4 linked regions of the Homo sapiens genome follow. The protein of the gene in region 1 purifies or fractionates together with the protein of each later gene. This does not show direct contact. Each region holds a gene or a part of one and is shown in the gene's direction. Other genes may lie near its edges. The genes, in order: BPIFB1, CRHBP, ZC3HC1 and OGFOD3.

Region 1 (7,954 bases):
AAATCGTTTCTTCCATTTTGTTGTAGTTTTTAATTTTCCCTCCATCCAAAGGGTTTGAGGTGTCTGAGAAGTTGAAGCATGGGAAAAAAAACGAAGATATCTGGTACAAAAAATAAAAGTCAGAGATTATCCGAGGGGCAAAGATGGAGTAGATGTTGCCACACACCTGAGCTCCAGGCTAAGCTTCCTGGCAACAAATGCACAAAAAGGAAACAGGCTGAATGGTGTCATTTCCTTCTAGGTTGCTATTGGGTAAGCTGCAGAGTTAAAATTCTTAGCTGACTCCCTGCTCTGTCTCCTCAGGCCAAGTTGTTGGACTCACAGGGAAAGGTGACCAAGTGGTTCAATAACTCTGCAGCTTCCCTGACAATGCCCACCCTGGACAACATCCCGTTCAGCCTCATCGTGAGTCAGGACGTGGTGAAAGCTGCAGTGGCTGCTGTGCTCTCTCCAGAAGAATTCATGGTCCTGTTGGACTCTGTGGTAAACCTCAGCACAAGGCAGAGAATAGGGCCGCCCAGGCCACATCATAGGAATTTCCTGAACACAGGGTGCCCCTAAGCAGGAATCCTCCATCAGGCTCAGTTTAATGGAGATCTCACTCCCTCCTCTAATAGACCCTGCCTCTGACATAGCTCTAAACCTAAAATCCTCCCGGTAACATCCAGCCCCAGTCATGGTTCTACCCTCTGGAATCTGATGCAAATGTTTCCTCTACCAAATAACAGTCTCGTGAAATCAAAAGGCATCTTAGATATGCAGTAGTCCAGGGGTGATAAATACATCTCAGATAGTGAGTAGTCCAGGGATGGCGACTGTGCCACTGCTCACCACTATGACACTCATGGCAGACATCACTAATCGATCAAGGCTCTCCTTTCTACTGAGTCTGGATGCTGACACAACCTTGGAATCCTTATTAACAGGGCACAGCCGATAACCACCACCAGTCAACTATGTTGTGCCACCTCCTCCCGGGTGACTGACGGGGAAATTGAGGTCCAGAGGGGGAAAGGGTTGGTCCAACGTTATGGGAGGATGGCAGAACTTCAGGGCAGCTGACAGACAACCAATAACCAAGCTCTCAGGGGACTGGGATGGCGAGAAAATAGGGAGTGGTCACCAACTAGCCCATTCATGATTGCAGTAAAAATGAAATCACCTCTCTATGTCCTCTGAGATCAGGAAGCTGCCCCCAGACCCACAACCATCACCAGCCCACAGTAAAAGTCCAGGCCAGCAGGACCCCATGCCCCATAGAAGCTGACCTAGGGGCTGTTTTTCCACCAATGACAGACACATGGCTTGGGTCACTGGGCCCACCCAGCTTTTCTGGGGTCCTGGGAAACCTTCCTCCCAGCAGTGGGGTGCAGGAGATGTGCCTCCCTGTGCCCTCCAACTGACCTTCTCTGGCTCCTCTCACCCTCAGCTTCCTGAGAGTGCCCATCGGCTGAAGTCAAGCATCGGGCTGATCAATGAAAAGGTTGGTCTGTTTGCCATCTGCAGCTTGAGGGGTGTTTGCTGTGGTCTGGACACAGGCCTCTGGGGAGGAGAATCTAGTGGGACTAGTGTTTCATTCCAGCACTGGGACACTCAAACCGCATCCCTGTCCGCACAGAGATTTCAGTCTAGCAGGCCAGTTTGACCTGAAGCAAATCATCACATGGATAGTATTTCCATTACAGCTGCAGTAACACAGGACAGGTTCTAGGGGCCATGAGAACACTCTGGGCCCCTGATACAGTCTGGGACGTCAGGGAGGCCTCCCTGAAGGGAAGGGCATTCCAGACAGAGGGAACAGGAGACCAAAGGCTGCCAGGTAGGGAGAACAACACAACATTCAAGGATCTGCAAGAAGGACAGGGTGGCTGGAACACGTGAGGGAGCAGGGAGCCCAGGAAGGCAGGCAGGGGCCAGGCCACACACAGAGCCTGTGGGCCATGGTGGGCACTTGGGAGGCCACATGTGGGTCTGATCTCCTTCCAGGCTGCAGATAAGCTGGGATCTACCCAGATCGTGAAGATCCTAACTCAGGACACTCCCGAGTTTTTTATAGACCAAGGCCATGCCAAGGTGGCCCAACTGATCGTGCTGGAAGTGTTTCCCTCCAGTGAAGCCCTCCGCCCTTTGTTCACCCTGGGCATCGTGAGTTCAGTTGTCTGCGATATTGGCAGCAACCAGGGGGACCCTTCTGTCTACTTTTCCTGTTCGCCCTCTTGCTTTGTTAAACATTTCCACCACTCTCATCACTTAGCAGGGACAGGGGACAGGGAGCTCTGAACCAAGAGCCAGGAGCTTTGTGGGTCCAATTCTAACCCTGTGACTTTCTTAGTCAGGAATCTCTGGACAGAAACTCAACTCATATGCACAAAAGGAATTGTATTAGCTCCTATAACTAAAAAGTCTAGATGCTATTGACTTCGGGAATAGCTGGACCCAGGTGCTCAAACAATATCCTCTTCATTCTCCTCTCTCCCACCTAGCAGCCTTGTTTTCCTCTGTGCTGCCTTCATCCTCAGGCAAGCTATTCCCTCATGGTAGTGCCCCAGGCTGCATTAGGCTCATATCCTATCAGCTTGGCAATCACCGCAGGAAGAACCTATCTTTCCAATAGTTCCAGCAAACATCTCAGGGCTGACTCTCACTGAATGAGCCTGAGTCAGTTGCCCATTCTTGAGCCAATCAGTGTGTCCAGAAAAATGGAATATGAAAACTTCCTGAGCTGGGCCACCTACACACTAGGGTAAGGGAGTGAGGGCTCTATGAATAGTGGCTGCTTTCGTCGTCGTCATCGTCATCATTATCATTCCCCACAGCAAGCCTAGACTGTCATCTGTTAAATGGGGAGTGGAGGCAAGTACTATCTCATTTAACAGATGAGGCAGGTGAGGCCCAGAGAGGTCAAACCCTTTGCCAAGGTCCCAGAGCCAGGAACTGAGATTCAGACCCCAGAGCCTCCCTGCATAACCCCTAATTCCACACTCGGATCCTCTTGAGAACAATGGGGCCTGGGCTTCTCTTGTTGCAGGAAGCCAGCTCGGAAGCTCAGTTTTACACCAAAGGTGACCAACTTATACTCAACTTGAATAACATCAGGTAAACACACAAATCATCATGAAGATTCTGCTGATGGAAATGAGTCCCGCCTGGTAACCATGGGTTTCTTTAAACACCGACTTTGTGGCTGTCAGGTGAAGGCGGCTCCAGGGTAGGCAGGGAGGTCCTTCCGGATGCTCCTGCTGACAAGGACTGCATGTGAGGGAATGGGGAGGAAAATGAAGTAGGCCTTGCAGCAGCCACGGCACAGGCAAACCCTAGCCGCGGCCAGCCCACTCTGGACACCTCCCAGGCCGTGGCAGTGACAGTCACCCGGCACAGAAGTGCAGGGCTCCAGCTGCCTCCTGCACCCTGCCTGTTCTCCCTCCCCGCCACTTTCCTGTGGCCCCAGAGTGAGTGCAGGGGCTGCCAGCTGGAGCCTCTGGGGACAAGTCAGGCCCAGGGCTCTTTTGATCAGCCCACATAGGGCTGGGCTGTTTAATATAAATGAGTTGTGCACATATCAAATCAGACTATCTGGCTGCCCTGTGCCCACAATCCTACATAGCAACAAACTGTCGAGCCAGGAATTGGGGCGCCCTTTGAAGGAGCTTGGGCCTCCTTGTCCACCACAGCCCTGACTCCTGAGGTTGATTTTTCTGCTCACTGGACTGCTATTTGTTTTCTGTGCCCCCTCTATGCCCCCCACCCCACCCCTGCCATTAGAATGCAAGCTCCACGACGCAAGGGCTTCATGTGGTTCACTGGAGCCCGCACTGTGCCTGGCACATAATAGGTGCTCAATAAATCGCTGTTGAATGAGTGGATGGTGAATGAGTGGGACTTCAGGGGCCGCTCTCACAGGCATCTTCCATTGCAGCTCTGATCGGATCCAGCTGATGAACTCTGGGATTGGCTGGTTCCAAGTAAGTGTTAACAGGTGGTGCCTGAGGGCACAGGGGGTGGCCTGGAATGGTCCACTCTCAAAACAGATATTGCCCAGGATTTGCTTCAAACAAGGTCCCCACAGAAGCACCATGGGGGGCTGGCCGGTCTCCACCAAAGTCCAACTTCCCTCGAGTGTTTACAGAGAAGCCACCACGTGTCAGACACAGCTGAGAACACACACACGCACACACAAATACACTCACAGATACACACTTTCTTTCAGTGAAGTTTTGATCCTGAATTAGAACACAAGTGCCCTTGACTCACAATCTCATTCTGCACACGTAGACGCGCCTCAGTGCCCCTAGACAGCCCTTTCCTGCTGGGATTCAGACCGAACCCCAATACCTCAGTCTGGCGTGTTTTCTCTGGTTTTTATGATTTGTTTTTCACTATTTTTGACTTTTTTTTTTTTTTTTTTTGAGATGGAGTCTCGCTCTGTCGCCCAGGCTGGAGAGCAGTGGTGTGATCTTGGCTCACTGCAACCTCCATCTCCCGGGTTCAAGCAATTCTCCTGCCTCAGCCTCCTGAGTAGCTGGGACTACAGGCGCCCACCACCACGCCCGGCTAATTTTTTGTACTTTTAGTAGAGACAGGGTTTCACCATGTTAGCCAAGATGGTCTCGATCTCCTGACCTCATGATCTGCCCGCCTTGGCCTCCCAAAGTGCTGGGATTACAGGCATGAGCCACCATGCCCGGTGACTAATATTTTAAAACACGGAGAGTTCCACATGCAAATCAGGACTTCTGGCTTCCCTCCAGAAGTCAGAAGTTCAGGCAATGCAGGGCAAAATTCCCTCAGGGCAAATTCAGCTGCAACAGAGTGGTGGGGCCCCTGAGGATGGGGCATCCTCCAATGCACCCCAATCCCCCCATCTACCAGGCCCCAGGGGCGGCTGAGTTCATGCCCCAACCCAGCCCATCTGGTCCCTGGGAGCCCCCACAGCTCTGATCAGCAGGGGACCTGGAATTCCTACATCTCCACCAGCCACCTCACCCATGGGGAGGAGCCACACCCACGAAGAATGATGGGGGGGAACTTCAGATGCTCAACCAGGGTGACAGTGCCCCTTCTCTCTCTCACAGCCTGATGTTCTGAAAAACATCATCACTGAGATCATCCACTCCATCCTGCTGCCGAACCAGAATGGTGCATACCTCTGCCATCTGTGCCCCCTCTCTCCCCAGGGCTTGGCTTTACTTCCCCTGCCCTCATCTCCATGAATGGGGCCCCTTTCATTCATCTCCCAGCCATCCCTCAGAGCCTACTTCAAAATCTGCCTCCTCCCAAGAACCTTCTCAGCCCAATTCCTTTGCTAGTGCCAGAGGCTGGGCTCGTAAAGATGAACCAAGCAGTGGGCCAGACTTGCAGGGCTGGAAGGAGACAGAGGCATAAGCAGACAATGAGAGCAATGACAGAGGTGTAAGAGACAACTGGAGGCGCCTCAGCAGACCCTGTTCCCCCTCTTGCTAGTGCCTGGCCTTGGTCAAGCTGCACAATCCTTCTGAGCCTCAGTTTCTCCATCTGTAAAATGGGGACGTAGAAGTACCTTCTTCAGAGGCACAAATCAGGAGGTGCCTGGCACAGTCAGTGCCCAACACTCTAATTCAGCCCCAGGTTGAATGAGGGGTGGGAAGGGTTTGTAACCTATACAGTTCCACCTTTTTAATTTCTTTATTTTATTAGACTGGAAAAATCTCAAAGTATAGAAACCTCTGCTGGGGATAATGGGAGCCCCTGATGGTTCTTGAGCAAGAGCGTAAGAGAATGTGAGGACTGCATTTTGTGAGGGGCCAGAAGCCAGTGCCAGAGGCAAAGGGAGGGTAGACGAGGCTGGGTCAATGCTGGGGCCAGAGAACAGGCGAGCAGAGGCAGAGGGGGCTGTCTGATCAGGCCTGCCAGGCCGGGGCTCCCCTTCAGGAACCCTGAGCCTGCCCCTGGCTGCCCAGTCTCACCCCAGGCCCATCAGTTTCTGACCACATTTGTTATTTCAGGCAAATTAAGATCTGGGGTCCCAGTGTCATTGGTGAAGGCCTTGGGATTCGAGGCAGCTGAGTCCTCACTGACCAAGGTGAGTGGGTGTGGCCCTAAACATCCTGCCCCAGGGAGGGCACAGCCACTGAGAGCCCTGGCTGGGAGGTGGGGCCTGCACTCCAACCCCAGCCTACAGGTGACCCTGGGCAAGTCCCTTCCCCTCTCAGGGCCTCACCTCCTCATCTGCAAGTGAGAAGGTTGGCTGTGCTGAGGATGGAACCCTCCTAGCCTGGGGTCAGTACACTTTTTCCACCCCCTTGTCATTCATTCATTCATTCATTCATTCAGTAATTCACTAAATATTTTTCGAGGGTCTTCTATAGGCAAGCCATGCTTCTGAGTGCTTGAGGCCACCGAAATGAACAAATGGAAAACACTCCCATCTTTTTCAAGCCTACCTTTTAGCAGAAGAGGCAGATACACAAGCCCTAAAGATGTAACATCAGGCTGAGTGGAGGAAGGCTGAGAAGAAAAATAAAGCAGGCTCAGGAGGAGAGAGTGATGTCAGGGAAGGGGGTGCTGTTTCAGATGGGGTGGCCAGGGAGGGCCTCTCTGAGGAGGTAACATTTGAGCCAATGCCTGAGGAGGTGAGGGGTGAGCCCTGTGGGTAGCTGGGAGAAGTGTCCCGTCAGAGGGACAGCGTATTAGGCCGTTCTCACACTGCTATAAAGAAATACCTGAGGCTGGGCTCAGTGGCTTGTGCCTATAATCCCAGCACTTTGGGAGGCCAAGGTGGGCAGATCACCTGAGGTCAAGAGTTCGAGACCAGCCTGGCCGACATGGCAAAACCCAGTCTCTACTAAAAATACAAAAATTAGCTGGGCGTGATGGCGGGTACCTGTAATCCCAGCTACTCGGAAGGCTGAGGCAGAAGAATTGCTTGAACCCAGGAGGCGGAGGTTGCAGTGACCTGAGATCACGCCATTGCACTCCAGCCTGGGCAACAAGAGTGAAATCCATCCCCCCCCCAAAAAAAAAAGGAAAGAAAATAAATACCTGAGACTGGGTAATTCATGAAGAAAAGAGGTTTAATTGGCTTGTGGTTCTGCAGGCTGTACAGGAAACACGATGCTGGCATCTGCTCAGCTTCTGGGGAGGCTTCAGGAAACTTCCAATCATAGCGGAAGGCAAAGGGGAAGACTGCACATCACATGGCCCAAGCAGGAGCAAGGGGTGGGAGGTGCTACACACTTTTAAACAACCAGATCTCACAAGAGCACACTCACCATCACGAGAACAGCACCAAGAGGATGGCGCTAAACCATTCACAAGAAACCAGCCCCATGATCCAATCAGCTTAGACCCCACCTCCAACATTGGGTTCTACATGAGATTTGGGCGGGGACACAGATCTAAACCATATCAGATGTCAAGTGCAAAGGCCCTGAGGCAGGGATTGTTGGTGTTCCAGGAAAGATGAGGAAGGAGGCCCAGGATCTGAGGCAACATCCAAGGCAGGTAACCTCATAGGCCTGAGATGCATGCATGCACACACACATATACACACACACACGCACACCTTTATACACCTATACACATACATACACACGCACATACAAACACATACACCTTTATACACATACATACACACACACACCTTTATACACCTATACACATACATACACACGCACATACAAACACATACACCTTTATACACATACATACACACACACACCTTTATACACCTATACACATACATACACACGCACATACAAACACATACACCTTTATACACATACATACACACACACACCTTTATACACCTATACATATACATACACACACACATACATATTGCACACATACACACCACACACATACACACTACACACACACACATAATACACACACCACACACATACACACTACACACACACATACACACACACATAATACACACACCACACACATACACACTACACACACACCACAC
Region 2 (7,917 bases), on another chromosome or scaffold:
ATAAAACAGCTTCAGGGAGATGGGCAGGGCCAGAGTGTGGTGAGCCCTGCAGGCCACATTAGGGAGTTTAAGTGCAGTGGTAAACCACTGAAAGAGTTCAGGGAGGAAAGCAACATGATCTGATGTATGCTGTCTAAAACGTCACTGTGGCTTCCATGCAATGAATGGGCTGTAGGGCCATGCCACCCTTTTTATGGCTCTGGTGAGATGTTTCTTTAGTTATTATTAACATATCTATCAAGATTATTTTCTTAAACCTCCCAGATTTCTATGTATTGGAAGATGAGTTCCACCAAAATAAAACCAAAACCAAAAAACCTTCAATTTTGCACATTGAGTTGGTGTGAGGATCTTACATTTGGTACAAGGAATGTAAGTACTTTTTATTGTTTTTTGTTTTTTGTTTTTTTTTTGAGATGGAGTCTCGCTCTGTCGCCCAGGCTGGAGTGCAGACATGCAGTCTCGGCTCACTGCAACCTCTGCCTCCGAGGTTCAAGCAATTCTCCTGCCTCAGTCTCCTGAGTAGCTGGGATTACAAGCATGAGCCACCACACCTGGCTAATTTTTTTTTGTATTTTTAGTAGAGACAGGGTTTCACCATATTGGCCAGGCTGGTCTCAAACTCCTGACCTTGTGATCTGCCCGCCTCGGCCTCCCAAAGTGCTGGGATTACAAACATGAGCCACTGCTCCTGGCCAAGTACTTTTTTGGTACATTATTGTGGGCTAGGCAAAAGATAGTAGTGGCTTAGAACCTGAACAAAGAAATTTAGGGAATCCCTGTTGAGAAACTGAACTTGAGAGGTCCCTGCATAACTCAGTTTCTGCCATTGTAAGAAAAGCTGAGAGGTTTGCAAAGAAGGGAGAAAAATCATTGAACAGCAAGGAATAAGTGCACTTAACTTTCTTGTTTCTTTGTTTTGTTCCCCTCACTTTAGTTTCTATTTCTTCCTAGCTTCTTTATTTCCTACTTCTCTCTCCTGAGTCTGCCTTTTTGCCTGCAACAGCACCTGCTGAATTTTGGAACCTATAAAACTAAGTGGAAAATTTAGTTGTAAGAGATGTTCCTCCTGGACATCCTCTACTCAAGGGAAAGGCAATTAAAGTTTTTTTCCTTTACTGCTAAATTGCTTATTCCACTCTCAATACAAGAACATGAAGCCCTGTATACAGTGGGGCTAATTAAACCTCTTTCATCATTTGATGCAATTATGTATAAAGCCTCTAAGCATCAAACCCAGTACATAGTAGGTAGGCCCTTTAAAAATATGTATCCCCACCTGCCCCTGCTCATTAGTGAAGCAGTTGCCATTATGTTATTTTCCAATTTGCTGTTTAGTTCCAGTTGTATTCCAATGCTCTTCTGTGTTTTTTTGTTTGTTTTGTTTTGTTTTGTTTTTTCGGAGACAGAGTCTCACTCTGTCGCCCAGGCTGGAGTGCAGTGACGTGATCTTGGCTCACTGCAACCTCTGCCTCCCAGGTTCAAGTGATTCTCCCACCTCAGCTTCCCGAGTAGCTGGGACTACAGGTGTGTGCCACCGCGCTTGGCTAATTTTTGTATTTTTAGTGGAGACGGGGTTTCACCGTGTTGGCCAGGCTGGTCTCGAACTCCTGACCTCAAATGATCCACCTGCCTTGGCCTCCCAAAGTGCTGGAATTACAGGCGTGAGCCACCATGCTGGTCAGTGCCCTTCTAAATGCCTGAATGTGTGTGCTTATGTGTGTGTGTGGGTGTGTGTGTGTATTAAGTTCTCTATTTTAGATTTTGGTTCCTATGTGTTAAGGTCTATCTAGTGAAGTACTGAGCACCTTGTCACATTCTACTAGATCTCTTAATGAGCACACTTCAATGAAAAAGAGGATCACAGGCAAAATTGTGGGGACCAGTACAAATGAAAATGTGGGAGCCCTTATTACAATTTTATGAAAATGCAGCAGAACATTAAACCAAGCATAGAGCCCTTCTAGGCACTGGCTTTTTGTGGCTGCACAGGTGGCATACTTGTGAGACTGCCCTGGGGAGATGGGGGCTCAGAGTACTTTTGGGACTAAGAGTGGTTGCTTTGTTTGTGTTGGAAAGTGAGGCACGGGGATTGCTATGGACAAGACAGTGTGGAAAAAATGAAAAGGCTGGGTGAGGTGGCTCACACCTGTAATCCCAGCATTTTGGGAGTCCGAGGCAGGAGGATCCCTTGAGGTTAGGAGTTCAAGACCGGCCTGGGCAACATATCAAGGACCCATCTCTACAAAATTGAAAAAAAAAAAAAAGGGGGAAGCAGGAAAAGGTGATCATGGTGGACCACACAAAGCTTTAGAATGAATTCTTTTGAGTAGCTTGAAATAAATTTGTTTTAGTTGAAAGGAGAAAGATCATGGTAACTGTAGCTAACTTGGGCCCCAAATCAGGGTTTTATTATTTCTTTAACATACTCATAATTAATCAAAATTCTTATTGTTAGAAATGAGGTGTTCCAATAGCACACAAATTTCCTTTACAAAGAAGAAGAAAAGAGATGAGGTGAAGGAAAAACGGATGTGAAAGCCCTATTTATAAAATGTAGGTATTTGACTTCGCTTAGCTGTGACTGCATGCATTAAGAAATTGGAGTGATTCAGTATGTATGTCCAAATGATTTGAAAAGTAAAGCATTTTTTGGTTGAATTTCCACACATCTTATATGGAGTTTACAGATTTCCATTTTATCATTCCAGTCCTTGAGCTTAAAAAAAATGAAAAAAACATGTACACACATTTCTAAAAAAAATGATTACTCAACTGATTTAGAAAAGCAATTTTTATGATTTTTTCTCTTTTAAATGTCTTTTAATTTCCAGAGTCCCAGATGTTAAATTAAATGGTATTGCCAGGATGTTGAGGGCTGATTGAGTGAATTCATGGACCCGCTGTTGGTCAAATGGTTTGACTTCTGTAATTGGTTTAAATGTGTCTTTCTCTGCTGCTTTATTCCCTTAGAAATCCTCAGCAGGTTGCGAGGGAATAGGAGACTTTGTGGAGCTGCTGGGAGGAACTGGATTGGACCCTTCCAAGATGACGCCTTTAGCTGATCTCTGCTACCCCTTTCATGGCCCGGGTGAGGTATTTCTTTGATTGTTATGTATGTGCCTATCAAGATTAAAAAAAAATAAGCACTCCCCTAATATTTTCTACATTGGAAGGTGAGTTTCGCCAAAAAAGCCTTCAATTTTTCACACTGAGCCAGTATGAGGATTTGAGGCTATATATAACATCAGTATCTTTACCAAAATATCCGACACTGGGAGAGAAACCTTTGAAGCAATAAAGGTTGGCCTTAAGTAAAACTATGAAAAAGACAAAGCTTTTAAAATCTGCATTCTTTCCATTTTCTTGGGGGTCTCTGCTTTCATTTTCTAGAGACTAAAGAGTTTACTAACTGAAACACTTATGGTTCAAATAGTAGATGTATCATCAATTAGTAATAGGATAATAATGAAATAACTGTTTTTTATGTATGTGTATGTATGTGTGTGTGTTACTCATAGTAAATAAACAACAAAGTGATAAGCTTTATTAGAAATTCTTAGAACTGCTAAGTCTATAACTTCTTATGGCTAAACTAGCCTCTCAAAGGCCAGTGTAACACAGAGGTAAATTCTGAAATCTAAAAGCGGTCACCAGTAATAGAAGACTGGTTTATTTGGCACAGCATATGCCAAATAGAACCAGATCTATGTCAGAGACAAGTGAGTATTTTCACTTTTTTATGCTCATGTCAGGTGAGGATGGATGGGACTTCATGACCTCATGACCAGATAACTCAATGAAGTCTCGGGGAGGTGGGGGAGAGGAGTCATAAAACATTCCTGTAAAGGTCACTCCCATAGCTTTACTTCAGACACAGGAGTCCTAGATTAACATTAACGAGACAAAACAGAAGAAGAACAGCAGTCTCTAATCTCAGTTAATTCTTACTGTAGCCTCCTTCCTCTCCTGTCACTGCAGATCATTAACCAGCTAGGCAATGAAGCTGCAAAGCAGACAGTCCTCTTGATCAGCTGTTACCTGTAATAATTAAAACCAGGCCAGACCACCAGTATTTTCTGACTCTGAGTTGATGATGGACAAAACATCTCCAAAATAGAATTAACATACAGTCAGCCCTTCTTAACTGTGGGTTCCCCATACACAGATTCAACCAATTGTAATAGAAAATATTCAGCGTAGGCTAGGCGCGGTGTCTCACGCCTGTAATCACAGCACTTTGGGAGGCCGAAGCGGGCAGATTACTGAGGTCAGGAGTTCGAGACCAGCGTGGCCAATATGGTGAAACCCCCGTCTCTACTAAAAATATAAAAAAATTAGCCAGGCATCGTGGTGCACACCTGTAGTCCCAGGTACTTAGGAGGCTGAAGCAGGAGAATTGCTTGAACCCGGGCAGTGGTGGTTACAGTGAGCTGAGATTGTGCCACTGCACTCCAGCCTGGATGACAGAGCGAGACTAGACAGAGTGAGATTCTGTCTCAAAAAATATATATATATTCAGTGTAATTCCTGAACTTTGGGAGGCTGACGCAGGAGGATCGCTTGAGCCCAGCAGTTTGAGACCAGCCTGGGCAACATGGCAAGACCACACCCCATAAAATAAAAAAAAAGAAAAGAATCAGGTAAAAAAAAAACACACAAAAAAATACAGTATAACAACTATTTACATAGCTTTTACATTGTATTAGGTACTATAGGTAATCTACAGATGATTTAAAGTATATGGGAGGATGTGTGTAGTTTACATGGAAATAGGTAAAGGTAAAAGGTAGCCATTTACATAAGGGACTTGAACATCTGTGGATTTTGGTATCCGTGGGATGGGGAGCATCTTGGAACCAATCTCCTGAGGATACCAAAGGATGAATTATACAAAAGTCAGCACTAAAGCCTGATATGCACTCCACCCTCCCCCAGATACACCTATATTCTAAAAGTTTCAGATGAGATTTAAGGTAGGAGTGGGCTCAAAGCAAGCTTTCTAATCAAGGTAAAGGCAAAAGATTTCCAAAATCCCACTTTGCGGAAAACTAGAGGATTCTCTAATGCTAATTGACACTTGAGCCATGGTTTAAACTGTCAGTGCATGCGGCTTCTTTAGCCTTTTGGGTGCATGATCTGAGGCACTAAAGTACTTCCATGCTCATGATTGGAGAGCACCTTTGAGGAGATATACCTCAGCTGGGTTAAAAAGTAAGACAAGGATTAAAGAACAATCAGGCCTTACAATTTAGATAATTGAAGCCAAAGTCATTTTTCCGCTTGAGTGATATAACTTGAATTAGAAAAAAAGGTGATTCTAAAGCCAGAAAACCACTTTTGCCTACATTACCTAGGTAACTGAAACCACTTTTAAGACAATTTTAAGGCTTGAATTATATCACTCTTTGGTTCATTTTAGACTTTATTCCGTTACTGGAAGGAGGGCCTTGAGTGTAAGTTGTCCAGGTTCTTGGCGTTTTGAACAAAGAATTGGACAAAACGCACAAAGTAACAAAGGAATGAAACACAGGAACAAAGTAGCCGAAGCAGGGATGTATTAAAGGGAGAAAGCACTCCGCAGGGTGGGAGTGGACCCTAGCGAGCGGCTCAAGGGCCCGGTTACAAAAGTTTTCTGGGTTTCAAGTACTCCTTTCTTTTGTTTTGAGATGGAGTTTCACTCTTGTTGCCCAGGCTGGAGTGCAATGGTGCGATCTCGGCTCACCGCAACCTCCACCTATTGGGTTCAAGTGATTCTCCTGCCTCTGCCTCCCGAGTAGCTGGGATTACAGGCATGTGCCACCACGCCTGGCTAATTTTGTATTTTTAGTAGAGATGGGGTTTCTCCATGTTGGTCAGGCTGGTCTCGAACTCCTGACCTCAGGTGATCTGCCCACCTCGGCCTCCCAAAGTGCTGGGATTACAGGTGTGAGCCACTGCTCCTTTTGAGGTTCCTATCAATTACCCTTTATCTGGATGAAGGATTTGGTTTGTGGGTAAAGGCTGAGGTGAATTGGCACCCTATGCAGATGAAGAGATAGCCCATGCTTGTTCCACGGCCAGTACAAGGCACTCTCCCTTTCCTTGTGAGATGTGGTGGAAGGGGAGGGTTGTAGGGAGACTAGCCTTTGATCCGTCGCTACTTGGGCTTGGGGGAGATGCGGTTTTTCCTTTTGGTTCAGCTTTAGGAAGTTTGCATTAATTGGGCTTAGGTTCCCTGCCCCCAGACCCAGGTGTTTTCCTTTTGATCCAGCTTTGGGAAGTCAGCACAAATTGGCCTCAGTTTCCCTGCCACCAGGCCTTGGTGTTTTTCCTTGATTCAGCATGAATTGACCTTAAGTTCCCTGCCTCCAGACCCTATTCTCCTGCCTTAATTCTTTTCTTTCTTTATCATATTTCCATGAGCCCCTCCTGAGTTGTTCAGTGTTGAACTATTAAGGACCCTGCCCTTTACATTGGATTTTGTTAGGAATTAGTTCAAAATAATAAATAAATAATAAGTAAAGAAAATAGGACATGTTATAAAGATTAAAGTCCAGAGTAAGATCAGAAAAAGAATGACCTCCAAACTGTTTAATGAAAAATAAATTTGGCTGGGTGTGGTGGTTCATGCCTGTAATCCCAACACTTTGGGAGTCTGAAGCGGGCACATCACTTGAGGTCAGGAGTTTGAGACGAGCCTGGCTAACATGGTGAAACCCCATCTCTATTCAAATTCAAAAATTAGCCAGGTGTGGTGGCACACAACTGTAATCCCAGCTACTGGAGAGGCTGAGTTAGGAGAATTACTTGAACCTGGGAGGCAGAGGTTGCAGCGAGCCAAGATGGCACCACTGCACTCCAGCCTGGATGACAGAGCAAGATCCTGCCACAAAAAAAAGAAAGGAAAGGAAAAGAAAAAGAAATTTGGACCTCCTGGTAGAAGCTTAACTAGACTACCTGGTACTTATATTAAAATAATTATAGGGCTTTTATTTATTATGTCATCCATTTGACTTTTATCTCAATAACTCTATTGAACTGTTTACTTCATTTAAACCCAGGTATGTGTTTGAGTGGTACCCATTACACGAGGACAATGATAGCATTTCTTAAAATTTAAAAACACCTTATAGAGACAAAGTGAGGAAAAGAAAGATTGAGAAAACTAAAACAGCAGAAATGATTATTGTAGAGCAGATAAATCTTGCCTCAGGAATCAGCTTGGATAAACAAATAGAATAAATAAAAGGAAAGTAATTCTTAATAAAAGTAATATGAGTTTCAATATATAACCCATACAGAGGAGATATAAAAGTTGTCAGATCTTATATAAATAATGAATAAGATTGGATTTTTTTTTTTTTTGAGATGGAGTCTCACTTTGTTGCCCAGGCTGGGGTGCAGTGGTGTGATCTCGACCCACCACAACCACTGCCTCCCAGGTTCAAGCAATTCTTCTGCCTCAGCCTCCCGAGTAGCTGGGACTACAGGTGCGCACCACCATGCCTGGCTAATTTTTGTATTTTTAGTAGAGACGGGGTTTCACTATGTTGGCCAGGCTGGTCTCAAACTCCTGACCTCGTGATCCACCCACGTCGGCCTCCCAAAGTGCTGGGATTACAGGCATGAGCCACCGTGCCCAGCTGAATAAGATTGGATTTAAGAGAAGCAAGGATATCAGAAGCCATTTCATATAAATAGTACAGAAAAAATCAGAGAAAAGTTGTAAGTGGATAATAAAACAAAAACTAGTATGTTCAGTGTATGTCTATACGATGCAAATGATCTTTTTGTTTATGTATAAAACAGTTTTTGTATAAATTCAGAAAATGATAAACAGGTGTTTTTTTTTGTTTTTTTTTTTTTTGGTCTACATAAATGTCCCGCAGTACATTCCATCCTCTAGCCCCCACTAAATGCCCCTTGCAACCCTAG
Region 3 (7,954 bases), on another chromosome or scaffold:
TGTAATCCCGGCTACTCAGGAGGCTGAGGCAGGAGAATTGCTTGAACCTGGGAGGCAGAGGTTGCAGTGAGCCGTGATCGCACCATTGCACTGCAGCCTGGGCGACAGAGCAAAAACTCTGTCTCGGAAAAAAAAAAAAAAAAAAAGGCTGATTCAGTGTAGCTTCTACTTCATTCTAGGCCTACTAGACTGACCTCTTTAGGAAGTAGCTTAGCAAGGCCTTTCTGCACTCATCATTTGCCTTTGTACCAGTGTACCAAGTATGCAGTAGATGAATTGGGTAATGCCAGAGATAATTATACTATAGTATATAATCAGTTTCCACACTGCTTAGATTTCAGGCAGATTCCTTCTTTTCCAACTTAGGTATTACCAGTAGAATTCCTAATTGTATACTTTATTTACTCTGGTACCCAGTTAAGCTTCACCTTACAATGCAAGCCTTTTTGTATCTCTTGTGTAGACTTTAGGAACATGCCATTTTTTTCATTCTTAGCTCACAGTAAGTTATAACTTGGTAGTTATAAAATGATGGTTCTTTAAGACTTTTCACCTATTTAAGCATCCATCTCCACTAACTCTGTTCTGTTTTCTCTTTCTTAAGGTAACAATTTCACACATATATAGAAGTACACGGAATAGTATAAATAATGAAACCCCATCACTCAACTTCAACAATGATCAACTCATGGCCGATCTTGTTTCTTCTATATTCCTAACACCTAACACCCTGCCCCTCTGCATTGTTTTGAAGTTCAGTCCCACATATGCCATTTTATCTAAATATTTCAAAATATAAAAAATATGGATTCTACTTTTTAAACATGGTCTCAGTAGTATCATTACAGCCCCATCAAAATGAAAAACAATAATTTCCTGACACCATCAAATAGCTCATCAATTTTACTATATTTCCTCAATCATTCAATATGTGTTTTTTATTTATTTTATTTTATTATTATTTTTTGAGACAGAGTCTCTCTCTGTTGCCCAGGCTGGAGCACAGTGGCACGATCTCAGCCTCATTGCAACCTCTGCCTCCTGGGTTCAAGTGATTCTCCTGTCTTAGCCTCCCGAGTAGCTGGGATTACAGGCACGCGCCACCATGCCTGGCTAATTTTTTGTATTAAAGGAGGCTGAGACAGGGGTTTCTAGGTTGGCTAGGTTGGTCTTGAACTCCTGACCTCAGGTGATCCGCCCGCCTCGGCCTTCCAAAGTGCTGGGATTACAGGTATGAGCCACCATGCCCAGCCGTGTTTTTTATTTTTTACAGTTTACACCAATATAATCTTCCAATTTACTTTTTCCACAGACCGATTTGGGATGTTGCCCCTGGATGAGCCTGCTATTCTTGTTAGTGAATTCCTAGATCGTTTTCAAAGCCTTTGTCACTTGGACCTCCAGCTTCCTTCCCTAAGGCCGGAGGACTTGAAAACTATGGTGAGTTTTTCCTGACTAGGCTGCAATGGCCTCCAGTTGTTGCCAGCATTTATACCTGAAGCATTTCTTTTAATGACAAGAAGATGCAATTGCTGTGAAGAGAACTGCTTGTCTGTCTCTCATCTGACCTTTTCAGTCTCCACCAGGAAGGTGACAGTTGAGAGTTCCATTTGAATGTTTAGGTATGTTTTTTTAAATGGCATAGATTCAATTTAACATATATGTATATAAGCAGTTTATTTGGGCCAAGTTTTAGGGCTGTAACCTGGAAGCATAGATTCAAGTTTGCCCTGAATATATGCTTCCCATAAATTCAGTTTTATCTTGATTTATTACTTAAATTATTATTATTATTATTTTGAGACCGAGTCTCTTTCTGTCACCCAGGCTGGAGTGCAATAGTGTAATCTCGGCTCACTGCAACCTCCACCTCCCAGGTCCACGCAATTCTCCTGCCTCAGCCTCCTGAGTAGCTAGGATTACAGGCGTCTGCCACCACACCTGGCTAATTTTTGTATTTTTAGTAGAGACGGGGTTTCACCATATTGGTCAGGCCGTTCTCAAACTCCTGACCTCAGGTGATCCACCTGCCTCGGCCTCCCAAAGTGCTGGGATTACAGGCATGAGCCGGCACACCCAGCCTACTTAAACTATTTAACAGAAAATACTGAAATGTGACTGCATATGGTTTATTGCATATCTTTTTTTTTTTTTTTTTTTTTTTTTTTTTTTTTTTTTGAGACAGAGTCTTGTTCTGTCGCCAGGCTGTAGTACAGTGGTGATCTTGGCTCACTGCAACCTCCGCCTCCTGGGTTCAAGCGATTCTTCTGTCTCAGCCTCCCAAGTAGCTGGGATTACAGGCACGTGCGACCACGCCTAGCTAATTTTTGTAATTTTAGTAGAGACAGGGTTTCACTGTGTTGGGCAGGATGTTCTAGATCTCCTGACCTCGTGATCCGCCCACCTCGGCCTCCCAAAGTGCTGGGATTACAGATGTGAGCCACCACACCCGGCCATCATTTTTCAAAGAAAGTAACAAACTCCTTTCTCCTTGTGAGTAGAAATGTTTAAATGCTGTAGTCAGCCCGGGCACAGTGGCTCATGCCTGTAATCCCGGCACTTTGGGAGGCTGAGGTGGGTAGATCACCTGAGGTCAGGAGTTCGAGACCAGCCTGGCCAACATGGTGAAACCCCGTCTCTATTAAAAATACAAAAAATTAGCCGGACATGGTAGTTTATGCCTGTAGTCCCAGCTACCTGGGAGGCTGAGGCAGGAGAATTGCTTGAACCTGGGAGACAGGTTGCAGTGAGCCGAGATCGCACCATTGCACTCCAGCCTGGGCAACAAGAGCGAAACTCCATCTCAAAAATAAAATAAATGCTCTAGTCAATCTGTACTTTGAAACTGAATATTTACTGTTCCATTTAATCACCCTATGGGTACTCCATGAAGACAAGCTTTACTGTAGGAAATAGTAGCCTCTTCAAATTAAGAGAGTGGTATGGGTTTTAGCATCAAACTGTTAACCTCCCAAAGTCCCCTCCAAGTACTAACCAGGCCTGACCCTGCTTAGCTTCCGAGATGAGATGAGACTGGACGCGTTCAGGGTGGTATGGCCATAGACTGAAACTATTAACCTCTGATGCTTATGAATATAACCCTGTCCCTAGCCAAGGCAATTTTTTTTTTCCACCTGGTCATAGTTCCTTATTTTTCTTAGAACAAAAATAAAGTCTAACGAGCTTTGTTGTTCTGTCAAAAAGTAAATTTAGAGCCTGGGGCACAGTGATGTATGCCTGTAGTCCCAGCTACTCAGGAGGCTGAGGTGGGAGGATTGCTTGAGCTCAGGAGTTCAAGACCAGCATGGCCAACATAGTGAGACCCCATCTCTAAAATTTTTTTTTCTTTAATTTTTTTTTTTTTTTTTTTTTGATACGGAGTCTTGCTCATTCGCCCAGGCTGGAGTGCAGTGGTGCAATCTCAGCTCACTGCAAGCTCCGCCTCCCAGGTTCACGCTATTCTCCTGCCTCAGCCTCCAGGGTAGCTGGGACTACAGGTGCCCGCCACCACGCCCGGCCAATTTTTTTGTATTTTTAGTAGAGACGGGGTTTCACCATGTTAGCCAGGATGGTCTCGATCTCCTGACCTTGTGATCCACCTGCCTCGGCCTCCCAAAGTGCTGGGATTACAGGCGTGAGCCACCACGCCTGGCCTCTTTAATGTTTAAGTAAATTTAGTGTCAGGCTAAGACATAAGCAGTAATTTGTCTTCACTATTTGGGTTTGAAGTTTGCAGGTTTCAGGGAAAATCTGCAGCTGGTAAATTGAACAATTTAGTACTAACAAGAGTTTTGGCAGTTCCAGGGAGACTCCATCTTTCTCAGTCAGCAGATTCAGGGCAATTCAGAAAGCTTCTGTGTGATACTATAGCCCTGTCCCTGGAAGTATTTTGTTCTCTGTGAAGAGAAGTATCTTCATGTTTGTAATTTCCTTCCTGATTTTCGGCTTGTACCATCTAGGTATGTTATAATGTGTAATTTTTCTTTTTATGGTGGTTGAAACGAAGTTTTTTACTTGGCTCCCTTGTAGTGCTTGACAGAAGACAAGATCAGTCTTCTCCTACACTTGCTTGAAGATGAACTTGATCACCGAACTGATGAGAGAAAAACTACAATCAAATTAGGCTCAGACATCCAAGTCCACGTCACTGCCTGTATTCTCTCTGTGTGTGGCTGGGCGTGTAGGTGAGTCAGCAGATTTTGCCTGGAGACATGAACCATGACAACAGCATTACACCCATATATATCAGTCACTAATCGTATTTAGAAATCACATGGTGTTTCCCGTGAGAAAAAGAGACAAAGAAAAACTGGGTGGGGGATGGTGCGAGGAGAATGGATAATAAGAATTAGTAACAAAACCAGAATTGGAATTCAGGAATTCTTGGTGTTCACAACTGAACTTTGTTTCTTGTACTGTTGCTTCTTAACTGGGAATTTGTGTTCTCTTTTTTTTTTTTTTTTTTTTTTTTGAGACGGAGTCTCATTCTGTTGCCCAGGCTGGAGGGTAGTGGCGTGCGCGATCTCAGCTCACTGCAAGCTCCGCCTCCCGGGTTCACGCCATTCTCCTGTCTCAGCCTCCCGAGTAGCTGGGACTATAGGTGCCTGCCACACGCCCAGCTAATTTTTTGTATTTTTGGTAGAGACGGGGTTTCACCGTGTTAGTCAGGATGGTCTTGATCTCCTGACCTCGTGTTCTGCCTGCCTCGGCCTCCCAAAGTGCTGGGATTACAGGCGTGAGCCACCACACCAGGCTGAATTTGTGTTCTATAAACAGTGAACCTCCTTTCTAAAAATGGAAAGAAAATAAGCTCTTTTCTATTTTTAAGAAGGAAAAATAGAAAGGAAGTTCTTTTCTATTTTTAGAAAGGAAGAAAAATCCGCTTAATTGATAAAAACTACCATAGGAAACACCAGCTGGAGTCTTCTAGGCCCCCATGTTGCTATTTCCATTCCAGCTGCTCAATTTGGCATAGACTCCCACTATCCTTAATCTACCAAAGAGAGCATATTTAAAATACATCAAGATTGGTTCTGACAGTAAATAAATCTTGATGTATTTTAAATATGCTCTCTTTGGTAGATTAAGGAATGTTTTTTGTTTAAAGGGAAAAGACTTTAAGAGGGACAAGAGAGGGTGGGTACGGTGGCTCACACTTATTTAATCCCAGCACTTTGGGAGGCCAAGGCGGGTGGATCACCTGAGGTCAGGAATTCGAGACCAGCCTGGCCAACATGGTGAAACCCCATCTCTACCAAAAGTACAAAAATTAGCCGGGCATGGTGGCGGGTGCCTGTAATCCCAGCTACTCAGGAGGCTGAGGCAGGGGAATCACTTGAACCTGGGAGGCGGAGGTTGCAGTGAGCTGAGATCGCACCATTGCACTCCAGCCCGGGCAACAAGAGCAAAACTCTGACTCAAAAAAAAAAAAAAAAAAAAAAAAAAAAGAGGGACAGGAGAAACTTTTTGTGTTGTTGTTGTTGTTGGTCAGGCTGGTCTCGAACTCCTGACCTCAGGTGATCCACCCACCTTGGCCTCCCAAAGTGCTGGGATTACAGGCATGAGCCACTGCACCCGGCCGAGAAACTTTTAAAACATGCCTGCAAAACAGTCTTACCATAGAGAGCACACTAAGAACCCGAGGTCTTTCTATGGGAAATATGTGAGAGATGATGAAGTATGAAGCTGGGTCCTGAGACTGGAGCACAGAGGCTCTGATAGGACATGGTGACTGTTCCAGAAATTGGATGAGATAAGGCATACTCACAAGACATTGCACTTAGTCATTTGGAAATGTTACACTTTGAGAAAACTCTCTTTTTCATTCCTATCTAGTTCCTCTTTGGAATCCATGCAGCTCTCCCTGATAACATGTTCGCAATGTATGAGGAAGGTGGGGCTCTGGGGCTTCCAGCAGATTGAATCGTCCATGACTGACCTGGATGCATCCTTTGGCCTGACCAGCTCCCCAATCCCAGGCCTTGAGGGGCGACCAGAGCGCTTACCTCTGGTGCCTGAATCTCCTCGGAGGATGATGACCCGGAGCCAGGATGCCACTTTCTCCCCAGGCTCAGAGCAGGTATTCACTTAGCTTATTTGGGGTGGAATTTTAAACAACATTCTTGGCAAAAGTGTTGTTGGTAGAAAGTTGGAAATTAATTTAGGTGGATAGGCTTCTCTTCCCACTACATTGGTTACGATACCACATAGTGTTTCTGTTCACTAATGGGGAAGCTAAATTCAGCCAGACCCGGTGGCTCACGCCTATGATCCCAGCACTTTGGGAGACTGAGGCAGGCAGATCACTTGAGGTTAGGAGTTTGAGACCAGCCTGGCCAACATGGTGAAACCCCGTCTCTACCAAAAATGCAAAAATTAGCCAGGTGTGGTGGCAGGCACCTGTAATCCCAGCTACTTGGGAGGCTGAAGCAGGAGAATCACTTGAACTCGGGAGGCAGAGGTTGCCATGAGCCAAGATCGCCTCACTGCTCTCCAGCCTTGGCAACAAAGCGAGACTCTGTCTCAAAAAAAAAAAGAAAAAAGATTAAAGAAAGAAGTATTTCTGACCATAATCATTAATATCATTCGTGTACTTCCATTATCTCCCCTTTCCTTCAGGCTGAAAAGAGCCCTGGTCCCATTGTCTCTCGAACTCGGAGCTGGGACTCTTCCAGTCCTGTTGACCGTCCTGAGCCAGAGGCTGCTAGCCCCACCACCAGAACTCGCCCAGTGACCCGAAGCATGGGAACAGGAGACACCCCTGGCCTGGAGGTACCATCTAGCCCTCTGCGGAAAGCCAAGCGAGCTCGCCTCTGCTCCTCCAGCAGTTCGGTGAGTCCACCTCGCATGTAGCAGTGGCTGAGCATAAACAGCATATTGGGCCCTCCCTAGGCAGCATGGAGAAGCAGGCAGGAGCCCTTCCGTGGTCCAATGCAAAAAGTAGACCATGTGAATAAATTTAAAGTTGGATGACCAAAGGGAAAAAATGTCAGTCATGTTTTTTGCTCCTTTTTGTTCCTTTGGAGTGGATTCTGGAGAAATAATAGATATTTCAGGCAAATGGAACAACGGTGTGATACAGGGACAAACCTGATCTGGCAGCGGTCCCCAACCTTTTTGGCACCAGGGACCGTTTTCATGGAAGACCATTTTTCCACGGACCACGGTTGGGAGGATGGTTTCGGGATGATACGAGCACATTACATGTATTGTGTACTTTATTTCTATTATTATTATATTGTAATATATAATGAAATAATTGTACAACTCACCATAATATAGAGTCAGTGGGAACCTGCAGCTTGTTTTCCTGCAACTAGATGATCTCATCTGGGGGTGACGGGAAACAGTGACAGATCATGAGGTGTCAGACTCTCATAAGGAGCCCGAAGTCTAGATCCCTCTCATGTGCAGTTCACAGTAGGGTTCCTGCTCCTATAAGAATCTAATGCCACTGCTGATCTGACAGGAGGCAGAGCTCAGGTGGTAATGCAAACAATGGGGAGCAGCTGTAAATTCAGATGAAGCTTTGCTTGCCCGCCTGCTGTTCACCTCCTACTGTGCGACCTGGTACCCATCCATGGCCTGGGGGTTGGGTATCCCTTATCCCTTGTGATAAGGTATAGTTTGTTTAACACAAAAGGAGTGAAAAAATAAAGAAAATGAGAGGAAAATGTGTAGGCAAAGTTTGAAGGAGAGCATAAACACTCGAAGTATGGGTAGTTGTGAGATTCTGGACTTGATAACTAACAGCAGTGCCTCCCTGAACTTACATAGCATCTACCTATGAATGCTATTTCTTTTTCTCCTTCCTCAGGACACATCTTCCCGAAGCTTCTTTGATCCCACCTCTCAGCATAGAGACTGGTGCCCTTGGGTGAATATCACACTTGGCAAAGAAAGCAGGGAGAATGGTGGAACTGAACCAGATGCCAGCGCCCCAGCAGAGCCAGGC
Region 4 (7,954 bases), on another chromosome or scaffold:
TCTCAGAGTTCCTTCTTGAATTTCTCTGTGTGTATAAAAACGAATGCATAAGAATACCGCATTCTGTCAGTTGTAAAGAATCACATTTAAAACAGTTTTGGCAATTGTTCCTTCTTCCCATTGCATAACATAAGGCAGCTGTGGCTGTCAGATCATGGACCCTGGTATGGTTTCCTTTTTACAGAAGGCAGTGCAGTCCGCACGCGGCTTTGCTCACTTGACGTCTGTCTTACTCTGGTCTCCCCAGAATCAGAGCCTGGCATGGACTTGTGTTTGGGAAGCTTTTAAGGGGGGACTCCGGGGGGCATCTGTGAGGCCTGGAGGGGGCAAAGCCCATGGGAGCTGAGCCCAAGGGGCCTCCTGGCAGCTGGGAGGGGCAGGGGGGAGGGAGCTTGACCCACCGCCCAGGGCACCACCTGAGACTGGGCTTCCTTACAGCGGATTATGTGAGGTGGATATTGGCGGGTCGGACTGGGGGCTGGGCCCCAGCGTGATCCTGCTCTCCTTCCCAGGAGGACTCAGAGGAGGCCACCTTGCCCAGGGGGAGGGCCCGGTGTCTGCCTTCAAGCCTGGGCTCTCTCCACTGCACACGAGGCTCTGTTGTGTGTGATGTACCTAGCTCAGCGCCCGCACAGTGGGTGTCCAGTTCCGCGCTGGTGCGGCTCCATCCCCCTTCCCTCCCCAGAGTGTCTCTTTCCCTCCCTGGTCTGGGTGTGCTTATGACAGCTGAGCTGGGTGAGATGCGCCCTCCCCTTTGCAGCTGGTGTCCTGGCAGCTGCACCTTTCACCCCCAGGGCGTGGCCCCAGCTGGGTTCTGGAATGGAAGCTGAGTGCTGCGACCCCTGAGTGAAGTAAGCCAGTCACGGAGGGACAGATCCTGCCTGATCCCACGTCCGTGGGGACCCTAGAGTCGCCAGGTTCACAGAGACAGAAAGCGGAATGGAGAGGGCAGGACTGGGGGGCGTGGGGAGTCAGTGCTTCCTGGGGACGGAGCTTCGGCCTGGGAGGATGAGATGTTCTGGAGAGGACGGTGCGGTGGCTGCACAACATTGGAAATGTGCTTAACATCACTGAACTGTGCTTAAAAACAGTGAAGACACAGTTAAGCTGGAAAATCTTAGGTTCTGCATTTTATTACAAGTTTTAAAAAGCTTGGGATTGCTCCACTTCTGAAGAAAGGAGAAAAGCGCGTCCACCGCTGCCTCTGGTTCCCACGTGTGGGCAGCGAGGCTGGCACCGGGGGACCATCCCAGCATGCACACCCTGCTGGCTGGCCTGCTGCCCGTAGCCTTTGCTGGAACACGGCTGCTCCAACATCTGAGCTTACAGGAAATCCTGGGCAACAATGCATGAGGCTGGAGACTCTGCAGAGGGTTTTTAAAGTTGCAAAGGAACAAATGGCCTCATTAATGGGGCCGACACATGTTGTTAATTTACCTTCTGGAAAATAAGAAGCACAGATGTTGGTGACTCACGCGCGTAATCCCAGCACCCGGGAGGCTGAGGTGGGAGGATCACTTGGGGCCAGGAGTTTGAGACCAGCCTGGGCATCATAGCGAGACCCGCCCCCCTGCCCCCACCACCCCGCCCCAACCTCTACAAAAAATACAAAAATCAGCCAGGCACAGTGGCTCATGCCTCTAATCCCAGCACCCGGGAGGCCAAAGTGGGTGGACTGATGCCATCTCTACAAAAAAAAAAATAGAAAAGAAAAAATTAGCTGGTTGTAGTGTCGTGCGCCTGTGGTCCTGGCTACCCGGGATGCTGAGGCAGGAGGATTGTTTAAAGCCAGGAGTTCAAGGTTATGGTAAGCAATGACAGTGCTGTGACTGCACTACAGCCTGAGTGATGCTGTCTGTAAAAAAAGCGATACCCTATTAAAAAAAAAAAGAGGCTGGGTTCAGTGGCTCATGCCCGTAATCCCAGCACTTTGGGAGGCCAAGGTGGGTGGATCACCTGAGATCAAGAGTTTGAGACCAACCTGACCAACAAGGTGAAACCCTGTCTCTACTAAAAATACAAAATTAGCTGGGTGTGGTGGTGGGTGCCTGTAGCCCCAGCTACTCGGGAGGCTGAGGCAGGAGAATTGCTTGAACCTGGGAGGCGGAGATTGCAGTGAGCCGAGATCGCATCACTGCACTCCAGCCTGGGTGATGGAGCAAGACTCTGTCTCAAAAAATAAATAAACAAAAAATAAGAGAGAGAAGCAGCACCTGCCCTGGTCGCATGCTGAGAGCCCATTCTGCCCCCTCCTCCCGGCTCTGCCCTCAGGTGACCTACGGCTCCTTCGACTACACCTCGCTGCTGTACCTCTCCAACTACCTGGAGGACTTCGGCGGAGGGCGGTTCATGTTCATGGAGGAGGGTGCCAACAAGACGGTGGAGCCGAGAGCTGGTAGGAGGCGCGGGCGGGGCCTGGGCGTGGGGCTCCTGGCTCAGGCAAGCACGGTGGGTGTGGGGGGCGTGTCCCTGGGAGCGAGGCTGAGTTCACGGAGCATCTGCTGTGTGCCGGGCCGGTGCTGAGTGATTCCCAGGTCTAGCGCCAGTCCCAACACCCAGGAGGCTGGTGTCTACGGGGCCACATGTCTGAGGTCACCGTCAGTCAGCGGCAGAGCCCCCCTCCACGCCCTGGTGTGTGTCACCTTGACAGGCACCATCCATTTCCCTCCCTGGTGTGTGTCACCTTGGCGGTCAGGGTCTCCCTCCCTCCCCTCTGGAGTGCGTTCACCTCTGTACCCTTCTCAAAGAGACTCGCAACCTAAGATTAGACGAGGCCCCAGCCCAGTGTCGGTGACCTAGTGCCCTCCTCGCTGGTGGCTGGAACCTCACCGGGTGGCTCTGCGGTGCCGGCTTCAGAACCCATCACACTGGACCTTGCAGTCCCAGAGTCCCAGAGCCCCAGCCATGCCCAGCCTGCTGCAGACACAGCAGTGCCAGTGAGCATTTGCCGAGCGGACAGTCATCCTCTGCTCCTTGAACTTGTGGGTAACACAAGCCCAGATCCTGGGGTGGGAGGGTGTGGGGAGTGGGGAACCCCTGTTAGGGGCCTCCTCAGGTGGAGCCCACGGCCCTGACCCCAGATGCAGCCGAAACTCGCATAGGCTTGGGAGCCCTGTGGACTGTGCCAGCACCATCCACCCCCCACTGCCTCACCCATCCCCAGGGCACTGCCCTCACCCCCCCCCCCCCGCTGCCTCACCCGTCCCCAGGGCACTGCCCTCACCCCCCACTACCTTACCCGTCCCCAGGACACTGCCCTCACCCCCTGCTGCCTCACCCGTCCCCAGGGCACTGCCCTCACCTGTGGGGTGGCCTCTCAGCACGGGTGTTCCTCCTGCCTGGCCGCTCAGTCAGACCAGGGACTGTGTGACAGTCAGGACTTCTTTCATCTCTTTTAAGATCTCCAGCTTGTTTATTTTGAGATTCCTGTTATTTGTACTTGCCTTTCTCAGGTTAGTTTACGACTTCAGTTTGCAAGCTCAGTTTGAGGGACTCTCTTTCCACGACCACCTGTGGCAGGTGGCCTGAGCTGCCCGGCCACTTCCTGCCATCCTGCCTCCCTCAGCTGCTCCCTGGCCACAGGCTGGACAGTTCCCGCTGTAGCCAGCGGCTGGCCAAGCCCACTCCCTGCAGCCGGCTTCAGGCCGTGTGTGCCGCAGCCCTGGGCACAGTCTCCCCTGGCGTGGATTGGGGGCGTTTGGCCTGACTGTGTCCTGGCCTCACTCTGCCTTCATGTCAGTTGTTCTGAGTCATCTCTGCATTAGGGGAAGGGTTTGGACGTCCAGCCTCTGCAAGCAGGAGCCCAGCCTGTCTGCCCTCACCCCAGAAGTCCCAGTCACAGCAGTTTTGTGGGAAAATGAAAAACTCACAGAGCACAAGACAGGCGTTTTCTTGAGAAGTCAAGCAGCTGAAGCCTCCTGGGACTCGAAATTACACAACTTTTTAGCATATTTTGATCTTAGTCATTTTAAGCATGATAAATACTTGAGTCAAACATTTTGTATTACGATCTTCTTTCAGATAATTAAAACAACCTGTCTCCTGCATGTGTCTGTCTAATTGTATCTATGTGTTTACCTGTGATTTGATGTCATACATGTCTAATTGTATCTATGTGTTTACCTGTGATTTGATGTCATACATCTAATTGTGTGTATCTGTGTGTTTCCCTGTGATTTGATGTCGTACATCTGTCTGATTGTGTGTATCTGTGTGTTTACCTGTGATTTGATGTCGTACATCTAATTGTGTGTATCTATGTGTTTACCTGTGATTTGATGTCGTACATCTGTCTAATTGTGTGTATCTATGTGTTTACCTGCGATTTGATGTCATACATCTGTCTAATTGTGTGTATCTATGTGTTTACCTGCGATTTGATGTCGTACATCTGTCTAATTGTGTGTATCTATGTGTTTACCTGCGATTTGATGTCGTACATCTGTCTAATTGTATCTATGTGTTTCCCTGTGATTTGATGTCATACATCTAATTGTGTGTATCTGTGTTTACCTGTGATGTTGTACATCTGTGTGTTATCTATGTGTTTACCTGTGATTTGATGTCATACATCTAATTGTGTGTATCTATGTGTTTACCTGTGATTTGATGTCATACATCTGTCTAATTGTGTGTATCTGTGTGTTTACGTGATTGATGTCATACATCTAATTGTATCTATGTGTTTACCTGTGATTTGATGTTGTACATCTGTCTAATTGTGTGTATCTATGTGTTTACCTGTGATTTGGAGACTTTTTTTTTTCTTTTGAGACGGAGTCTCGCTCTGTCGCCCAGGCTGGAGTGCAGTGGTGCGATCTCGGCTCACTGCAAGCTCCGCCTCCCGGATTCACGCCATTCTCCTGCCTCAGCCTCCCGAGTAGCTGGGACTACAGGTGCCTACCACCACGCCCGGCTAATTGTTTGTATTTTTAGTAGAGACGGGGTTTCACCGTGTTAGCCAGAATGGTCTCAATCTCCTGACCTCGTGATCCACCCGCCTCGGCCTCCCAAAGTGCTGGGATGACAGGCGTGAGCCACCACGCCCGGCCGTGTCGCAGTTCTTACCATGAGTGGCAAATGCTAGTTTTCTTTGTAGGGCAACTTTATCGAGGAAGGCAGAGTCCTGTGTTCGGGGGTTCCCAAGACCACCTTTAGGTCCAGTGACTCACTGTTGGGACTCACAGAACTCAGCAAAGCCATTATACCCTTGGCTGTAGTTTATTACAGTGAAAAGAAATGGATTAAAATCCACCAAGGGGGCCAGGTGGGGCGGCTCACACCTGTAATCCCAGCACTTGCAAGGCCGAGGCAGGCAGATCGTTTGAGCTCGGGAGTTCAAGACCAGCCTGGCCAAAATGGCAAAACCCCGTCTCTACAAAAAATACAAAAAGCAGCCGGGTGTGGTGGCGTGCACCTATAGTCCCAGCTACTCAGGAGGCTGAGATGGGAGGATTGCTTGAGCCTGGGAGGAGGAGGTTGCAGTGAGCCAAGATCCTACCATTGCATACTGCATTCCAGCCTGAGAAACAGAACCAAACCCTGTCTAAACAAAAACAAAAACAAAAAACAATCCAGCAAGGGGAGAGGCCGTGGGGCAGGTTGAGGAGTGACCAGGTGTGAGCTTCCCACTGTCTTCTCCCGGAGTTGGGTCAACAGCTCTTAGTTCTCCAGCAGTGATGTGTGATGATATTCGGGGGTGTCACTGACCAGGGATGCTCGGCCGAGCCTTGGTGTCCAGGGTTTTTACTGGGGGGCTGGTGGTGCAGGCACGGCTGGCCTCTGTCCCCAGCCCCTCTGGATGCTGAGCTGCTGCTCTGTGGCCCACGTCCCACCATAAGTGACACTGTCAGTGTGGACCATCTGGTGTGGCCCTAGGTCCCTGGTAAACAGAGGTTCTCCTATCAGGCAGGATGTTCTGAGGGCTCAGAGGTCCCCCCTGGGAGCCGGGGCAAAGGCCAGGCCTCTCTCTGGAGGGTGTAGGGTGTGCACCGCCCAGGCCCCTGGAGTCAACCCTTTACCACACAATCCCTGTCCTGTGTCCCCAGGATGTTTTTGTTTCCGGATGATGTCTTGTGGGTTCCAAGAAGTTAATGGACCGAGAGCCAGTGAAGCTGCTGGTGCGAAGGCTGGAGTCAGGTGTCCTCCGGGGACTCACCACCCGCCCGAGAGGGGAGAGACACATGCGATTCTGGAAGCTGAGAGCATTGCTTATTGTTGATTCCTTGGTTGCCGTGCTGAGTCCTGCTTTAAGGAAGCAGGTGATAATCTAATAGTCATTTACTAAAGAAAGTGCATCTTAGGCCGGGCGTGGTGGCTCACGCCTGTAATCCCAGCACTTTGGGAGGCCAAGACGGGCGGGTCATGAGGTCAGGAGATCGAGACCATCCTGGCTAACACGGTGAAACTACATCTCTACTAAAAGTACAAAAAAATTAGCTGGGCGTGGTGGCGGGCGCCTGTAGTCCCAGCTACTAGGGAGGCTGAGGCAGGAGAACGGCGTGAACCCAGGAGGCAGAGCTTGCAGTGAGCCAAGATCATGCCGCTGCAGTCCAGCCTGGGCAACAGAGCGAGACTGTCTAAAAAAAAAAAAAAAAAAAAAGTCCTTTTCTGGCCCCGTATTGATCTCATCTCCGTCTGAGCCTTCAGTAGTGTGGATGGTGGGTGGTTTCCTGCCTCCCACAGCTCACGAGGCTCAGCTGTCCTCCATCCTTCCCCCTGTCCTTTGGTGCCTCTGTTTGCAAGATGTGCAGAAACACCAGAGGGCCAGAGGAGACCCTCCTTTTACTGAATGCTGGCAGCCTCCTGAGAACCACGTCTGCCAGCAGTAGAGAGCAGAGAGTGTGGACGAGCATGGGCGACTGAGGTCCCAAATGGCGCGAGCCGCTGGGCCCTCCTGCTTGTGCCGATGTCTCAGCCTCGATTGAAGCTGGAAGAAACCAAGGACAATGTGTCCTTTAAAAGTGTAAGGTTAGAAGGTGCCCTGACTCCAGCCGACCTGGAAAAGGACGTGTCCTGCATATCTGGAGGTGGCCCACACGGTCCGGGAAAGATCGGCTGCCTTGCCTGCATCCCAGGGCGCTTCCCGGCCTCCATTAAGAGGTGACCATTGCATCCACGTGATTTCTTTTGCTCCACTATTTCCAGGCACAGTGCAACTGACTCCCTCTTGAAGCTAGAATGCCCTGCACACCCGGGATGGACTTCTCTCCCCTTTCAAAGATCGAGTGAAGTTTGCAAATGTGAAAGGAAGGAATTGCATTTCCAGTGGTAACCTTTGAAGGGGAATGAAATTGTCACAGGACGTCAGGAGCCACGTGGGGGAGCCCGGTGTCCTCTGAGTCTCAACGCCCCTTGCTTCCCACTTGGTGACGGTCGATGGCTGTGTCCAGCGGTGAACGCTTTACCACAGGACTCTACGGTGGGGTAGGCAGCGCCACTTCAATGTGAAGACAAATGAACTGGCGTCTCTTGAGATAGGCCCCTGCCTCCAGGACCTCTCAGGCCCCGGGCCCTGGTTACTGCCGTGGAAGCTGCCTGTTCAGACGTCATCTCTATCACCCCTTGAAGGGAGACAGAGAGGTGTTTGCGAGTTGGATGTTTTATCTTGTCTTTCCTGATTCTTTGTTAGAACACCCCCAGGGCTTGGTTTTTGTTCTCAACCTGTGATTAGAAATAAGATCCTAAAGTGTCAGATCTGGAAGGCCCATGAGAGCTGAGGAGATCAAATGCCCGGAGCTCGGGAGATCAGATGACCTGGGGTGTCTGGAGCCAGTGGTGGCCTCATCTGCAGCATCTTCCTCTGTCCTGCCCACCACAGAGTCCCTGCTGGCCCCGGGGGGCCCCTCCTCCGCCACAGGGCCCCTGAGCATTGCTGCGTTTGTTTCTCCAGCTCCTCCTTCCTGCAGAAGCAGTTCCCAGAGGGGCAATTTCTCCAGCCTGCCTGGTTGGTTGT

Evidence for each region.
Region 2: the proteins of BPIFB1 (region 1) and CRHBP purify together in Homo sapiens (co-immunoprecipitation; one large-scale study listed by IntAct). This does not show direct contact.
Region 3: the proteins of BPIFB1 (region 1) and ZC3HC1 purify together in Homo sapiens (co-immunoprecipitation; one large-scale study listed by IntAct). This does not show direct contact.
Region 4: the proteins of BPIFB1 (region 1) and OGFOD3 purify together in Homo sapiens (co-immunoprecipitation; one large-scale study listed by IntAct). This does not show direct contact.

What each region holds. Positions count from the first base shown.
Region 1 is NC_000020.11:33,300,930-33,308,883, forward strand, and holds part of BPIFB1 (BPI fold-containing family B member 1 precursor), read left to right. Parts: intron 1-303; coding exon 304-483; intron 484-1,429; coding exon 1,430-1,483; intron 1,484-1,986; coding exon 1,987-2,145; intron 2,146-3,028; coding exon 3,029-3,096; intron 3,097-3,916; coding exon 3,917-3,962; intron 3,963-5,072; coding exon 5,073-5,136; intron 5,137-5,981; coding exon 5,982-6,058; intron 6,059-7,954. UniProt on the Homo sapiens protein: May play a role in innate immunity in mouth, nose and lungs. Binds bacterial lipopolysaccharide (LPS) and modulates the cellular responses to LPS.
Region 2 is NC_000005.10:76,960,370-76,968,286, forward strand, and holds part of CRHBP (corticotropin-releasing factor-binding protein), read left to right. Parts: intron 1-2,973; coding exon 2,974-3,091; intron 3,092-7,917. UniProt on the Homo sapiens protein: Binds CRF and inactivates it. May prevent inappropriate pituitary-adrenal stimulation in pregnancy.
Region 3 is NC_000007.14:130,022,388-130,030,341, reverse strand, and holds part of ZC3HC1 (zinc finger C3HC-type protein 1), read left to right. Parts: intron 1-1,212; exon of another isoform or gene 1,213-1,231; intron 1,232-1,312; coding exon 1,313-1,440; intron 1,441-4,029; coding exon 4,030-4,184; intron 4,185-5,835; coding exon 5,836-6,079; intron 6,080-6,618; coding exon 6,619-6,831; intron 6,832-7,816; coding exon 7,817-7,954. UniProt on the Homo sapiens protein: Required for proper positioning of a substantial amount of TPR at the nuclear basket (NB) through interaction with TPR.
Region 4 is NC_000017.11:82,392,637-82,400,590, reverse strand, and holds part of OGFOD3 (2-oxoglutarate and iron-dependent oxygenase domain-containing protein 3), read left to right. Parts: intron 1-1,117; exon of another isoform or gene 1,118-2,271; coding exon 2,272-2,395; exon of another isoform or gene 2,396-3,003; intron 3,004-3,301; exon of another isoform or gene 3,302-3,710; intron 3,711-6,047; coding exon of another isoform or gene 6,048-6,220; exon of another isoform or gene 6,221-6,260; intron 6,261-7,954.